Regions from separate parts of the Homo sapiens genome. Here region 1 is linked to region 2. The links come from fine-mapping of genetic effects on gene expression. Tissue or cell type: whole blood. Region 2 holds a variant in brackets; the other region holds the start of a gene. All regions are shown on one strand. Distances are between the middles of the regions.

Region 1 (8,000 bases), 23 kb before region 2:
GTCTATTCTATGTTTTCTCTGGGCTCTGCCACTCAGTGTAACATGTTTCCCCCCTTCAAGAGCCCCACTACCTTTCCCCTCAGGAAGAAGGAGCCTCAGGGAAAGCAAAGGGAGCCTAGAGCTCATTGGCATCCTCTGGTATGGCTGAGATCCTCACCAAGGTCCTGTTGCCCCCACTGAATCCACGACAAAGAGAGGGCTGAAAGTGGCCTCAGAGAAACCACCTTGGCCAATGCCCTCATTTGGCATTTGTGGCAAGTGGGGCCCAGAGACGGTGAGTACCCTGCCCAAGGTCACACAGTAAGTTAAGGGAGGGCTAGGGAGTTAAGGGAGTCAAGTTAAGGGAAGCAAGTTAAGAGAGCCCCTGGTGTCTCCATCTAGGGGCTCTAGAGGCCAGCCCAGCCCCACAGACCGGGAGGATGGTGGCATGGGTTAACACATGGGGTCCCCCAGGCCCTGCTCAGCCAAGTTCATGCTATTTCCTCTACCTCCAATCTATCCAGTCTCAACTTATAATCCTCCATGACTCCCCCATTGAGGTTAAACTACAATCCATATTCTCCCTCCCTGATGTAACCTCCTCCACGCTCCAGTTGATTGCCGTACTTCAGCTCCTATTCCCAGAGGGTACCCAGTGTGTTCCCACCTCAGGGCCTTTGCCTCTGCAGTTTCTTCCACCTGGAGCTCTCTTCCCACATGTTGGCATGGTAGACTCCTCGCTGTCCAGCTTTTAGCTGCCATGTTGCCTAAGAGGCCTTCCCTGATTCCCCTGGCCAGAGCAGCCCCCTGCCCTCCGTCAATCACTGCCCCATCACCCTGGTCATTATCTTTCTCGCACTTACCATTATCGTTATTAGCTTGTCCCTATATAGGTCTCTCTGCAGCAGAATATAGGCTCCCAGAGAGCAGGGCCTTGTCTGGCAGGTCCACAGCTGCGTCCCTGCCTCCTCAGTGCCTGGTATGCAGGAGGTGCCCAACTAATGTTTGTCAATCAACTCTGATTGAAAGAGACCTAGACAAGACAGGTCACTGAAGCCTCACTCCAGCTGCACCAAAAACAAACAAAAAACCCCAAACCTTCCACATGTCTTTGGGCAAGTGGCCCCTCTTTGGGCCCCAATTTCCCCGTCTGAAAAATGGCGTTCCCTGGCTGCCGGGCTGGCTCGCAGGATAGGCTGGTTGAATTAGCATGAGTCGAGTTGATGGGTGTGAACGCTGCTTTGTAAACTGTTAAAGCGTGATTGCAAATTCGAGTAGCTGTTGTCATTAGACAAATGAAGCTTAAACCGCCTCCTCCTCTGCTGAGGAGGGGATTGGGTCAGATGCTCCCTGGGGCCTCCTGCCCTGGCAGTGTACAGTATAGTTTTGCATCCAGGCACTGCCCTCATGGAGCTCACAGTCGGCTGGAGTTGTAGAGATAACGTGCAAATCAGAAACAATCCATCAGAGAAACCAGCAATGGACCATGTGGGGCTGATTATCTTTCAGGGAACAGATAATAGGCAAATAGGTCAGTCAGAGAGGGGTGAGGCGAATGTCAATTAAGCTCTTGGTGGGGGCTGGGGTGAGGCTGAATCCAAGTCTTTAGAGCCAAGAAGGCAACCAGGTGGAGTGCACAGCTGGGACAAAAGCACAGCTAAAGGCGGTTGCCAAGAAATCAGGGAGGAGAGCCTGGCCAGACTGCAGAACCCAGCCACCCCAAATGGGGAATAAAATACTGTTTAGAGAGAAGAGGATGTGAGAGAAGGGGAACTTAATTATGATCAGTAATTTTCTATTTTTGCCAGGTAAAGGCCCTGGATAGATGTCTATTTCATCAGATAACGTTGGGTGAGTCACTTTCCTTTTTAGGCCTCAGTTTCCTTATCTGTGAAATAGCCTGTGGGAAGAGCCCTGAGCTCTGTGCTTCTGTGAAAGGTACAAGGAGGTCAGCACTGGGGTCGGACGGACATGGGGTTGAATCCTAGCCCAATTTGCCATGTGACTTTGGACAAATTACTTATCTGGTCCTCAGTTTCATCATGTGAAAAGATCAGCACCTGGTGCACAGAGTAGGAAAGATTAAGGGGGACAAGAAATAAACAAAGCCCAGCCTAGTGCCTGGTACCATGTCCTCAATAAAGCAGAGTCACTGGTCTTCCTATTTTGAGACAAAAAGGAAGTAACCACTGGCCCTGGGTAGGTGGAGTCAAGGGTCCCAGGAAATAGAAACAAAGCAAAAAAGCTGAATCTGCACAGTACATAATAGGTGCTCAATAATGACTTCTTGAATTTGGAAGTGTCTAGCACCTGGATGCACTGGAGGGGGCCAGAGCTTAGAGCTGCTCTGTCCAGGAGAGGGAGGATTGCCTCAAGATGGGCCAAGCTTGGGGTCCCTCAAACCCTGGGTCTCCTGGAAGGTCTGACAGGCAAGAACTGAAAATAAAGGCTAGCCCCACCCCAGTGGATCTTGACCCTGGTGAGGGGTCTGTAGACTTAAAAGGGGGAATCTTCGTTTCTCCTCTCTCCCTGCTCACTCAAATAGGAACGGTAGTGGCTCTGCCAGCCCCACCCCACTGGCTCTTGACCCTGGTGAGGGGTCTGTAGGCTTAATAGGGGGAAATCTCCTGTTTCTCTTCTCTCCCTGCTCACTCCTGTTCTGTCTCCCTCCCAGGCTGCCTCCTCCTGGTGGCCTTCCAGGATGACACCCATTTCAACTGGACTCTTGGAGCTTCAAGAGACGACCCAACTTTCCAAACCTTAGATGGATTCCCAAAGCCTGTGGTACCCCATTTTCTTGGTATGGACTGAAGGGGAGGGATTGCTGGGACATTTTGATAGTATGTGGGACAAAGGGACACAGGAGATGTGGGTAGCATAGACTTAAACTGCCTTCGACTTAAACCACCTGCTCCTGCACTGGGCTCCTCCACTCACTCCACAGAGTTCCGAGCTCCTGATGAAGTCTCCTCAGTCAGGAGTGGGCTCCCAACTGCCAGGGGTTCAGCCTGGGTGATTGCCGCAGGCCCCCTGCAGCCGCCCACCATCCAGACTTCAGTAAAGTCTGTTAATGATGATGGTGATGAAGGCTGTCAGAGCAGGGCAGGGCCCACAGGGTTGGGGCTAGGGTTGTGTTCTCCCTGAAGGGACGGCCATGCACAAAACCACGGCTGCACAGACAGGTCCATTCCACAGCGTGGGGGTGGCTGGGGCTTTCCCCAGATTCACCCATGGACTTCCTTCACCCCATCCCCAAACTGCACTGGGAGCAAGATCAACAGAGAAGGAGAAATCTAATACAGACATAGACGAGTCTGCAGTGAGGGGCTCGCGGGCCAGCTCAGAACAACGGGGCAGGGAGGGGAGGCCTGGGGTCTGCCTGCAAGGGCCCAGCCCACCAGTGCCGAGTGACCACCCTCCCCCCAGCCCCACCCCAGGCCCTCGGGTAGCGCCAAGGCCCAGTCTCCCACTCGGAGGCCCCGGCCCAGCCCCGGTGCCTGGGAAAGCCGCCTGTTTTGTTCCCAGATGCCACCCCCCCACACACACCCTTTTTTTTTTTTTTCCATTCATTGCAGTTCGGTCCCTTTCGAAGCCGCAGGGACCCGGGTGGCAGGGCTGAGGCGAGGGGGTGGGACTCCCTGCCCTGACAGGTAGTGCCGGCCCCCGCTTTGGGAAGCCCCTTCCCCCGCCCTCCCCTCCGTCCGCTCTCCCTGCCCCTGTCAGCCGCGCCAGACGCTCTCCGGCTTTGCAGCATTCAATAAAAATTGAGAAACATTTGGGCTGAAATCGCTGCTTTATCTGGAGGAGCCACAGCGCCGGGAGAGACCACTGCTGCGCGGGGGGAGCCCGGGGTCTCAGTGGCCCGGGCACGCGGGGTCGCCGCGCTCCAGCGCCCGCGCTGCCCCCGGGTGACCCTACGGGCGCGGTGTGGGGACCCGGGCTCGCGGCGGCGCGCGGCCGCCGGGGGCCGGGACGCGCGCGGGGGGCGGTGGCCTGGCGAGGCTCCCCCCGCGCCCGCGGCTCAGGTGGGCCGTGCCCAGCGCTGGCGGAGCCCGGGTCCCCGTTCTGCCCGGGCTGGATGGCTCATTCTGCTGGCTGCGCGGTGGCGGCGGCTGTGTGTGCGCCGCGCCTTGCCGCCCCCCCTGGCCCCCCGAGCCCGGGGCGCGCGCTCCCGCCCGGGCCGTCCGGGCCCCGCGGCGCCGCGGCCCGAGGCCCCGGGAAGCGCAGCCATGGCTCTGCGGAGGCTGGGGGCCGCGCTGCTGCTGCTGCCGCTGCTCGCCGCCGTGGAAGGTGAGCGAGCGGGCGGGCGGGCGGGCGATGGGGGCGGGGAGCGGCCGGGCACGGGCGGCCGCCGGCGCCCACCTCCGCTCCGCGGCCCGCAAAGTTTGCCCGGGGGCCGGCGCCGGGCGCAGGTGGCCGCGGGGAGGTGTGTCCGGCCGCGCCGGGAGGAGCGGGCCCCGCGGGCGCCCGGGGAGCGGCGGGCGCTGATTGACTGTGCCAGGAGGAGGCGAAGGGACCATCTTGCCGAGGCTTTGTAGCCAGCCCGGCGAGCGCCGCCCAGGGCTGGGGGCTGCCCACGCGCGCTCGCCGCCCCCGGCTCGGGCAGCCGCCTCGCGCCGGCCTGGTCTTGCTCCGCACAGGGTGGAGGGGCGCGGGCCCGGCCGTGGCGGGGGGCGGGGGGGGCGCCGGCGCTCGGTCGGGGCTGGAAAGTTTGGCAGGGAGCAGAGGGAGGGAGGCACCGCGGCCGGCCGGGGTGGGGGCTCCCGGCCCGCGCCCCCGAGATGGGGCCCGGCGCCCCGGAGAGCAGGGACTGGCAGAGTGGAAGGGAGCGCGCCAGCCCCCGCGTCGGTGCCTGCCCATCGCCCGCGGCGTACAATGGGGTCCCCTCCCCGAGAGGACTGCGCGGGGGATGGGTCTGTGGGCATCTCTCCGCCGCGCAAGGTCTCCGGGCACCCCCGCCGGCCACCGCCCCGCGGCCGCGGCGCTCAGCGTGGCGGCTGGAGCCCCGGGAACTCTCCAGCTGCCGCCGGGGCCGGACCAGATGCTCTTGCCATGTGTTGGCCTTGGCCAGGGTCGCGGGCCCTCTCCCCGTGGCCTCGTGTATTGGTACCACTCGACCCCCAGGGGGGCAAGGGTAGTTGCTAGGTCTCCCGAGCCAGCTTGCTCTGGAGGGAAAGTTAGTGCGGTCTGGGTGTGTCCACCAGGAATGGCCGAGCTTGCAGGGCAAGAAGCGAACGTGAATAATGGTTCTCACGTGTACTGCACTTTACAGTTTTCAAACCACTTTACAGTTTATGAAGTACTTCGCACTATACGCAGCTCTCTGTGGTTTACAACGTGCTGCACAGTTGACAAGGTACTTTAAGCTTTACAAAGTGCTTTCCCGCCCACCAGCGTGTTGGATCCCTCAAAATACACCTTCCGGGGAAGACAGGTAGGTATGATTCCTACTTCTCTTGAACAGATAGGGAAACCGAGGTTCTGAAAAGTCCGATGTCTCACCCAGGGCCGTTGGGTGACAAAAATAGAACCCAGGTCTGTGGTCTTTCTTTGAAACCAGCACTCACTTAGCTGGGTTTTGTTGCCCCTAAACTGCGTGAGCCCTTCCAGGGTTCTGCTCCCTTGGGCTTAGGGATGATGTCTGTGTGCACCTCTCAGGCCACTTTAGGGTTGTGGGGCGCCCCTTCCCTTCTTGCAGCCTAAGAAAAAACGCATATCAGACCAGACGTGGGGGCTGCGGCCTCTGGGAAAGGCGTCGTGGGGGACCCTGTGCTACAACTTCAGTTTCTCTTTCGGTAATGAGCACTTTAGTGACCGCAGTCAGGGGGTGGGGGGTGTCCCTGGATGGCAGCCACAGTTTCTGGCACTGAGGCAGCTGTCCTTCGGCTCCTGGGGGATTTGGCGGCTGACTGCGGTTTCCCGGAGTGGGGCCACTGGGGCACCTAGGGTGCCACGGGCCCTGGGTGTGGAGGGCAGCCCTGGGGCCTGGCTGCTGGCGGGAGCTCTGTGGAATATGGCTGAGGTACCACTTATTAACTCTGGCTTTGGGGAAATGACTCATGCGTTGGCCCGCTATACATTGGGATGTTTACAGTATTATGGGGAGCTTGGCATAAATATTGCTATTTAGGTTGCAGTCAGCGGTGCTGGAGGGGAAGAAAATTGGCCCCTCTCTCGTTGGAAGAGGCCTGGGTGTGTTTTTAATTACTCTGGGGTAGATGGAAGGGCCACATCTGTCCAGCCATCGCCCTGGCAGAGGCTGGTTGGAATCTGGTGGGCTGTGGCCAGCCTGGACCCTGGCCCTGGACACAGGGCTGGTGGGCGCTGACGTCACAGGAGGGTATGGCTACTTGGACTGCCACTTGGGGGCAGGGTGGGGAAGGGAAGCCACAGCAGGGTGGGAGGAGGGCTGCAGCAGGCACCCCAATGCTTGCCTCAGGCTCTTGTTCCGTTTGCCCCCTGGACACTAGGAAGTTAGTCCATCAGTGGTTAATAAGGAGCTGGCCGAATGGATGGGGAGATGGTGTGAGGTGGAGGTCAGAGGGCCTGCTTCTCATTTACTATGGGACCCTGGGCCAGGTCCCTTCCCTGTGGGGGCCTCAGTTTCTCTGGGTGTAAAATGGCCTGGCTAAATATCTTGTAGAGTCCATCGTCTACGCCCTACTTCCCCTCTTTGAGCCTCGTTTTCCTCCCCCGTCTAGTGAGAGTGATGACAGCGCCTGTCCTGCCTGTCTCCTGGGGTGTTTGTGAGGATCAGACCAGATGATGGGTGGGAGAAGTCCCCCTTCAAAGCCAGGGATGGACGGTGCTGCCTGTGCACATTTGGGGGGCGGTGCTGCCTGTGCACATTTGGGAGACACCAGGGTCCTCCTGAGGGTGACACAGTCTGTGGAGACAGGACTGGGCCGTGGAGCAGTAGGAGGGTGGCCCCTCTGGCTCCCAGAACCCAGAGCCACATGGCTACCACTTCCTTCCCTTCCTCCTTCCTTGTCTCCTCAGCCCGTAAAGGGCTGTCCTGCCGGTTAAGTCCCCAGGAAATCCCCAGCTCCAGCCTTCGGAATGGGGGAGAGGAGAGTGTGTGTGTATACGGGGGGTTTCTAGGTTAGGACGGTAAGCTTAGCATCTCCCCCAAACTGTGAGACCGCCCCCCGACCAAGTGAAAGAAAGCATGGAGCATGTGAAGTGGCGGCGAGCAGGATGGAAGAGCACTGGGGAAACGTCCAACAGGACAGGAGGCCGGTGGCAGACCCTGTCCATCCCTGGCCGATGGAATCCAAAGGTCAAGGTCTCAAGAAAACAGCCTCCTTACATCTGCTCCTTTGCTCTCCAAATATCGATAGAGTTTCCTCTCTGGCTGACAGGGTGCTGGACTCCGGGGCAGGCAAGGAGACGGGACAAGCTGACAGGGAAAAGAGTGGGCGAGACAGAGCATGATACGGGGTCCAACGTACTTCCCAGAGGAGGCTGTGAACCCCCCGGGGCGGCAGGTGCACTTGAGGACAGAACAGGGTTATTTCATCTTTTATGCTGTTATGCATTGCCTCATTTTCTCACCACCCATTTTCCCTGCTATGAAACTTTCTTAGCCACCTGTCATGCTAACGAACTGTGTTCTCAAGAGTTAAAGAGGTTGACTTTAGAACTTATAGGATGTGGAGAATTTTACCTAAAAAAGGAAATAGCATGTCTATATGTCCATAGAAAGACATGGAGGCAGGATGATCAGGTGCTTACTTTGATGTGTCTGAGGAGGGTGGGTGTTGAGGGCAGCAGTGGGGGTTGAGACTGAGAATGGGAGTGGGGTGGTCAGGTCCTGAAGGGCTAGAATGGAAGGCTGGGGAGTTTGGATCAAATGCTGAGGGCAGCAGGGAGCCCTTGAAGGTTCTTGAGCTATCAAGGGACCTGGCCAGATTCATGCTTGGAAAGATCACTGACTTGCAATGTGTGGTGACGTTCAGATGAGCCAGATCTGGTCCTGGACAGTCACAGTAAAGCCAGCTTGTCGGTTCCCGGCTAGACTG
Region 2 (8,000 bases):
AGGGGCGGAGGCGGGGGTGGCTTGATGAGGCCACACAGCTAGTCAGTGGGACAGACGTGCACTCAGATCCAACGGATATCAAGCCAGGTGGCCCTTCCCCCACTTCTTGTGGGCACTTGGGTGGGAGGTGTCAGGGATCCCTGGCCTTTGGGGGTCTTGACATCCCAAGCTCTTACCAGCCATGTGGCTGTGGACAAGTTGCAGGGGGCAGCATGGATTGTCCTGCCCTATGGAGGTTTTATTCTAATGGACAGGACTGATGCCAGATATCTAGTGAGTAGCTTAAGTAGGGATGGTGCTAAGAAGAAAACTGCTGCAGAGATGGGAGGGCCAGCGAGAGGAGGGATCAGGAAGGCCTTTCTGAGGAGGTGACGTTTGAGCAGAGGCCAGAAGGAAGCAAGAGAGGGGGTTCAGGGATATCTGGGGGAGGGTGTTTCAGGCAGTGAGGAGAGCTGGGCAAAGGCCCTGTGACAGGGGTGTGCAAGGCAGCCAGCGTGGCTGGAGCGGGAGGGCCAGGGGAGAATGGGAGCAGGTGACACAGAGGGACCAGCCATGGCAGGACTTTGGCTTCTACCTGGAGTGAGATGGGAGCGGTGCAGGGCTTTGAGGAGGTGGCAGGATCTAACCTGGGTTCAGAAAGCACCACTCTGTCTTAAGAGGCCAGAGAGTGAGGGACAGAGCAGGGGACAGGAAGAACCATCACAGAGTCCAGGCACGAGACGGTGGTGGCTGGACCAAGCGGGCAGTGGTGGGGAGTTGTCAGTAAGTGGCCCTGGTTTTGCTCCCCAGGCTGCCTCACATAGTTTGGGGGATCCAGAGGGGGCGGAGAGAAAATGGACCTTAAATGTCTTCTCCCTCTGGCCTGCCCCCACTCACCCCAGGAGGCTCTGTTGGCATTTTTGGCATGGAAACATATGTCTCTTTCTTTCTAATGTAAATTGATAATGTATTGACAATGCGATCTCCTGGCAGCCAGGTTGGTGACTCTAGCATGTGCTAGATCATTCTGGCGGGGGGAATGGAGGGCAGAGGGACAGAGAAGAGCCTGGCCCGGGCCCAAATCCACCCCCATCAGGACTTGCTGAGCGACTGTGCACAAGGCCCCTTCCCTCTTTTGAGCTGGGGGCTGCACTGGGGGATTAGCGGACCACCGAGGGGCTCTGCAGTCACACCAGTTGGGTTCATGTCCTGGCACCAGCTCTTACTAGGTGTGACTGTGGACAAGTTGCTTCACTTCTTGGAACCTCAGTTTCCTTATCTGTCAAATGGAGAGGGTAATAGTCCTTACCTTAGTAGGTGGCTGAGACATAGTAAGTTCTCAACAAATAACCATCATCGGCTAGGCGCGGTGGCTCATGCCTGTAATCCCAGCACTTTGGGAGGCCGAGGCAGGCAGATCACGAGGTCAGGAGTTCAAGACCAGCCTGGCCAACAGCCTGTCAAACCCCATCTCTACTAAAATTATACAAATTAGCCAGGCGTGGTGGCGCGCATCTGTAATCCCAGCTACTCTGGAGGCTGAGGCAGGAGAATCGCTTGAACCCGGGAAGTGGAGGTTGCAGTGAGCCAAGATCACGCCACTGCACCCCAGCCTGGGCAACAGAGCAAGATTCCATCTCAAACAAAACAAAACAACAACAACAAAATCATCACTGTGTAGAAGCCAGGGCACAGAAGCCAGGGCCGGAATGCTTTTGTGCGGCCTGTGCCCCAGTCTTCATCCCACCCAAGAGGAATTTGCCTGGTCTTTGGAAGGATCTCTTGGGTCTCAGGACTTGCAGAACTTCAGCAGCAGCTGCCCTGGAAGGCAGCCCCCTCTAGCGGAGGAGATTCAGCTCTGGGCCATACAGACCATTTACAGGCTGTGTGACCTCAGCTTGGGAGCACAACCTTCCTGAGCTCCAGAGGTGATGAGCTCCCCTTATCTGTGCAGTGGGAATTAGAGGGCCTGCCTCCCAGAGTGAGGATGACATAAGAACCCACTTGGAAAGGGCTTAGAGGGTGGGGCTCTATGAATTCTGGCTCCCTTCTGCCCAGATGTGTGGGCCAACTGGCTCCCAGGAGTGGGAGCCAAGAGCTGCGGGGGCCTGGGAAAGGTGAGGGGGCCAGAGAAGGTGGGGGTGGAAACCTGGAGGCAGAGGCAGCAGGGTTTGGGGAAGCGCGTGGGGGGCCGGAGGGCGGCTCTAACTCTTCTCTCTAATTTTTGAGAAAATCTTTACCCCATCTTCATATAATTAAGAGTATTTTTAAAATGCCTTGTTGAAATAAAAATAGTCCATTTCCATATGACCTCATTTCATTCCACACCCTCAGTGCGCGTGTGCACACAGATATACACACGCACACGAATGTCTAGATTTTTAAAGCTGCCTTTTGTGCCTCTGCTGAAGGGGTTCTTATTTTTGCCTAGCAGGTAAATATTTAGGGACTGCCCCCCGGCCCCGCTTTATTTTCTGATTTGCAATTGGAGGCCCTCTAAGGTCCATTAACAGCAGCTGACACTGTGCGGCTCTGCAGCTTACAAGGCGCGCTCACATTGATATCTCCATTGCTCCTCCTGCGTTCCTGGGCGGGGGTGTCACCATGACCCATCACTTAGAGATAGGACCATCTTTTTACCAGCAGCATCTAGTCCAGACCTGGCACATCACACACAAAAAATCAGCTAGTGTCTGTTGAATACAGATGAAGAATGAGACGCATAACACAGATGAAGAAATTGAGGCTCAAAGAGATGAAAGGATTTGCCCAAGTGGATTTTTTCCTGAGTTTTAATCCAGGACTGTCCAGACTCTCTGTATGTTCCCCCTCCTAGGCTGCCTTTCTTTCTTTCTTTCTTTCTTTTTTTTTGGAGTTTCGCTCTTGTCGCCCAGACTGGAATGCAATGGCGTAGTCTTGGCTCACTGCAACCTCTGCCTCCCCAGTTCAAGCGATTCTCCTGCCTCAGCCTCCTGAGTAGCTGGGATTACAGGTGCCTGCCACCACGCCTGGCTGATTTTTGTATTTTTAGTAGAGACGGGGTTTCACCGTGTTGGCCAGGCTGGTCTCAAACTTCTGACCTCAGGTGATTTGCCCACCTCAGCCTTCCAAAGTGCTGGGATTGCAGGCGTGAACCACTGTGGCTGGCCCAGGCTGCCTTTCTAACCAGCCTCTTTATTTTCAGATGGGGAAACCAAGACCCAAAGAGGATAAGGACCTGTGCAAAGTCACACAGTGATGAGTGATGATATGAATGATGAAAATATTAGCGTTATACAATTTTAACATTCATGTTAACAGTCATTTTAAAGGATTGATTTTACGGAGTAGTTTTGCACGGTGGAAATCAGCATATACCATGGCCTTATTATGTGCCATGTTGCCATGCTGAATCCACCACTGTGAGGCAGGATTATTATTATTTTTGTTTTAGAGGAAAACTGAATCTCTGAGAGGTTCAGTAAATTGCCCAAGGCCACATAGCCAGTAAGGGGCGGAAATGGGATTTGAACCCGCGATTCTCTAAGTCCAAAGCCCATGCTCATGACACGCTACTACATCAGGCTGGTATGATTTGGTGGGGACAGAGCTAGAAGTTGAACCCGGGACTGGATTCTTGGCCTGGTATGATTTGGTGGGGACAGAGCTAGAAGTTGAACCCGGGACTGGATTCTTGACCTGGTATGATTTGGTGGGGACGGAGCTAGAAGTTGAACCTGGGACTGGATTCTTGGCCTGGTGTGATTTGGTGGGGACAGAGCTAGAAGTTGAACCTGGGACTGGATTCTTGGCCTCCTGATCCCCAAAAACAAAACCCCAGCCCAGAGGCCGCAGGAGTGGCCCTGTCAGGAGCTTCTCAGTCAAGGACAGAGCTCTGCCCTGGGCCTCCCACCCAGGGCCAGCCTGGGCTTGGGCAGGGGGCTCATGTCTCTATCAGGCCTCACTGTGAGGGGGCTTTGGAGCAGCTGCCTCTGTGGCCCAGCCTGCATGCAGGCAGCTGGTCCTGGCTGCCTCTTTAGCAGGAGCAGGATAAATCTTACCCCCCGGCACAGCCCATGCACAGCCCAGTGTGGTTCACAGCATCCTTTCCCCTCCACAGTCTCACCTGAGCTTCACAACATCCTTGTGAGACAGTTAGGGTAGGGCTCCCCAGTCTTCATGCAGAGAAACCAAAGCCCAGAGATATATACACTCAATAAAGTACCACCAGAATGTCAATATTCTTTTTTTTTTTTTTTTTGAGACTGAGTTTCGCTCTATTGCCCAAGCTGAAGTGCAGTGGCGCAATCTCTGCTCACTGCAACCTCTGCCTCCTGGGTTCAAGCGATTCTTGTGCCTCAGCCTCCCGAATAGCTGGGATTACAGGTGTGCACCACTGCGCCCGACTAATTTTTGTATTTTTAGTAGAGATGGGGTTTCACCATGTTGGCCAGGCTGGTCTCTAACTCCTGACCTCAGGCATCTGCCTGCCTCAGCCTCCCAAAGCACTGGGATTTACAGGCATGAGCTACCACTCCCGGCCTGAATGTCAGTATTATTTTGCTGTGGTTCTTAATTTCTTTGGGGTCCTGAAGATCCTTGAGAAGCTGCCACAGGCTATGAACTGCCCCCTCCTAGAAAGTTGGAGACACACAGATACTTTTATGAAAAAATTCAGGGGACTTACAGATTACAAGCCTCTGTTGTGTTGCTCCATGGTACTGATGATAATGAATACAACTTTGTTTTATTGAGCCTCTGCTTTGTGCTGGGCAGGGTGTTTGATGGTTTACATACATTATCTCAGAACACCCCTGCAGGGTAGGAGACTGAGGCTCAAGGGAGGGTGACACTGACTAAGGCTGCACAGCAGGGCTAT[G/A]AACCTGCTCTACCGACTCCTGTGGCCTGTGGGGCATGGTGTGGGAGCATCTTCCTGAGGCTGCTGTTAAGAACAAGGACCTTTGCTGGGTACGGTGGCTCACTCCTATAATCCCAGCACACTTTGGGAGGGTGAGGCAGGAGGGTGAGGCAGGAGGATTGCTTGAGGCCAGGAGTTCGAGACCAGCTTGGGCAACACAGTGTGACCCCATCTCTACTAAATTTTTTTTTAATTAGTCAGGCATGGTGGCATGTGCCTATAGTCCCAGCTACTTGGGAGGCTGAGGTGGGAGGATCGCTTGAGCCCAGGAGGTCAAGGCTGTAGTGAGTCATGGTCATGCCACTGCACTGCAGCCTAAACAACAGAGTGAGACCCGGTATCAAAAAAAAAAAAAGAAGAAGAAGAAGAAGCAGAAGTAGAACCAGGGCCTCTAAGGAAGTTTACAGTCCATACTTTCTGCCTTTGGAAAAGACTGCTGGCTTACCCCAGGCCTGAGAGCAGGAACAGCTACTGAGGACAGGGTTTCTAGCAACCTCTGAACTCCCAGCAGGGAGCCTCCTTCTCCCACTTCCCAGGGGTCTGATTTGAGGGCCCTGGGTAGAGCCTGTCTCAGCTCTACATGATGGGAAAGTCTGCAATTCAAGCTTGACTCATTTGGCTTAACTCATGGGAATTTGCCTTCCTTGAAATCCTCTTCCCACCCTGGGACAGCCTAATGATTCCTATAGGGCACTTGGGACGCCCTTGGCAGTGAGTCGGCCCAGAGAGCAGGACTGAGGGAGAGGGCTGGGAGGTCAGTAGGGTCACTAGACTTAGGGCAGAGCCCCTGCCTGTGCACCCCTCAGGACCGGAGCAGCCTAAGGTATCTTGTACAGTGGATAAGAGTGTGGGCTCTGAGGGACCTGGGTTCAAATCCTGGCTTACACCTACACGCTCTGTGACTTTCGATAGGCTCTTTTCCCTCTCTGAGCCTCAGTTCCCCATTAGTAAAATGAGGATGATAAATAGCACTAAGAGACATGTGGCCCTGTCCCTGGCCCAAAGGTAGTGCTCAATAAAGATGATCGTAGTGGTCATCGTTGTTGCTGTCATAAGCAGAGTCGGGGGGCTGTGGAAGAGAGCTCATCGTACACACGGGGGTCTACAGGAGGCTGCTCAGGAGACCTCCCTTTCCTCTTTGGCAAGACTGTACCTGAAAGGGGATTGGGCGAGGAGTGATAAGGCTGGTATGGGGGAACGTTTGGGGACAAGGCGGCCCCTCTTGCCTGGTTGGTGTGGGGAATGAGGCCTGGTGCTGGGCCCAGAGACGTAAAAGCCTCTCCCCTTCAACTTTCCTCCCAAATAATTCTGGAGGCTGGACAAAGAGTTCCATGGGGCCCCCCTTCCCAATGCATGAGCCGAGGCTCTGTTTAGCAGCCCCCACCCCACAGACCCGCCTCAGTCACTGTGTTGGCCAAAGCATGGTTCCCTGGGGGTGGGAAGGAGCCTGGGAGCCTCGGTGGGGCCTGCAGGCCGCGGTCTGGTTCCCAGAGGCCCTGGAGGGGGCCCCTTCACAGCTTCAGCACGAGGCCCTTTGAGGGTGGGGGCAGCCTCCGCAGCGCGGCATGTTTGCGCCGCTGACACTCTGGCAGGGTCACTGTGGATAAAGGCGCTGCCCAGACCCCGGGCCCAGCCTGCAATGGGGCTTTCTTGTCAGAGAGGAGCCTTTTTTTCCCAGCGCACTGTGGGGCGGCCGCAGGGGGTCACCCTGCCTAGGAGGATAATGGAGCTTTGGGCCAATGGAGACACAGGACTCAGCCGGCCCCCTCCCTGTCAGACCTGGGGAGGAGGGGAGACTGGGGGAGACCGATTGGCTCGGATCAGCCGCCACCTTGGCCATGGCTCTCTGGGTGGAGTCAGAAGGGAAGACACAGTGGAGAACCTGGGACTCCCCCAGGCCTCCAGGTGTCTGCGAATCCAGCCATCGGCGTGACGAGGAATCTTGGGCAAGTCATCCAGTGCTTCCGTTTCTAATCTGGCTGCCTTGTGGTTCTCAGGAGAGACCACCAGGGCCAGAGCTAGCACGGCCCTTTTTAGCTGTGCCTCCCTCTCACCCTGGCCATTCAGCTACTGCCTGCCTTTCTGTTCCTACAGCTACCACCTGACCTCAAGTCTACCCCCTGCCCCACCTGGACCATCTCAGTGACTTCTGAACCCCACAAAGCATCACCACTGAGTCTTCTAAACTGCAGCTGAGACCACATTACCCTCCTGCTCAGACCTTGGGCTCCTTATCTAAAAAAATCAAGGTCAAACAGCTGCTCGTTGACCTGGCCCCTGAGGCCTTCTCTGCCTGTCCTTGTCATCCCACAAACTCTAGGTGGATGTCATTCTCATCCATAAACTATAGGTTTCATACATACATGTTATAAACTCCCATGCCCCCAGATCTTTGTTCAGGCCCCAGCTGCTGCCTAGAATGAATGCCCTTCTTGCTTCTGCCTAGTGAACTCCTACTCATCCTTCAAGGCCCAACTCAAATGTCCCCTCCTTGGTATATCCTTCTTTGTACTTACCCTCAGCTCTTGATTAACAATTCTTATAACACCAAGGTATGGCTAATTTTGTCTACATCACCCTCCCCCATTAAACTGGAGTGTAGAGACTTTCTTGTCTTATTCATCGTTGGGCCTCCAGTGCCTAGCACAGAGTCTGTTACCAACAGGCTCTTGGGTTGATGTTTTATGAATGAGAGAATGAATGAATACATTGTCTGCCCATGAAAATAACTTCCCCCTCTATCCTAGAGGCTTTTACAACTCAGCATGACACTCCCACAAGACCTTGGAAGTAGGAGGAAATTATCATGATGCACAGGCTGTTCAGATGCCTCTGAAACTAGGTAGAACCTGGAATGAGACTGGATCTGGGTCTCAGGCCAGAACAAGGCAGCTCTTACATCAACCTAGCCTCGCAGAGGTCTTGGAGTTCATGCTCTACCTTGAGGCAAGACCTGGTCAAACCATTTAAAGATAAAAAAAATACTAACTTATCGCAGAGTTGAGAATTCTCCACTTAGGGGCTGGATGGATTCTTAGAGGCTACCTGGCCCAACCCCCTCTTTGGGGATGATTTATACAGAAGCACAGATGGCTTTGTTCACTTGGGATCCTTGTCTTAGTTT

What was found. PIP is the estimated chance that this variant, and not a neighbour inherited with it, causes the effect.
Region 1: it holds the start of EPHB2, and the variant in region 2 is fine-mapped to the expression of EPHB2 in whole blood (TOPMed, PIP 0.98).

Annotation. Positions count from the first base shown.
Region 1 is chr1:22,706,775-22,714,774 of GRCh38, forward strand. It overlaps EPHB2 (EPH receptor B2), which reads left to right and starts at 4,065. Exons shown (of 16, transcript NM_017449.5): 1 at 4,065-4,269. The coding sequence starts at 4,209. RefSeq lists a silencer at 2,752-3,037 and an enhancer at 5,259-5,358.
Region 2 is chr1:22,730,221-22,738,220 of GRCh38, forward strand. All of the region lies in intron 1 of EPHB2 (EPH receptor B2), which reads left to right. Among named protein-coding and RNA genes, the nearest start is that of MIR4684, 15 kb to the left of the region's middle. RefSeq lists an enhancer at 6,509-7,070. The variant G/A (reference allele first, on the strand shown) is at 4,838.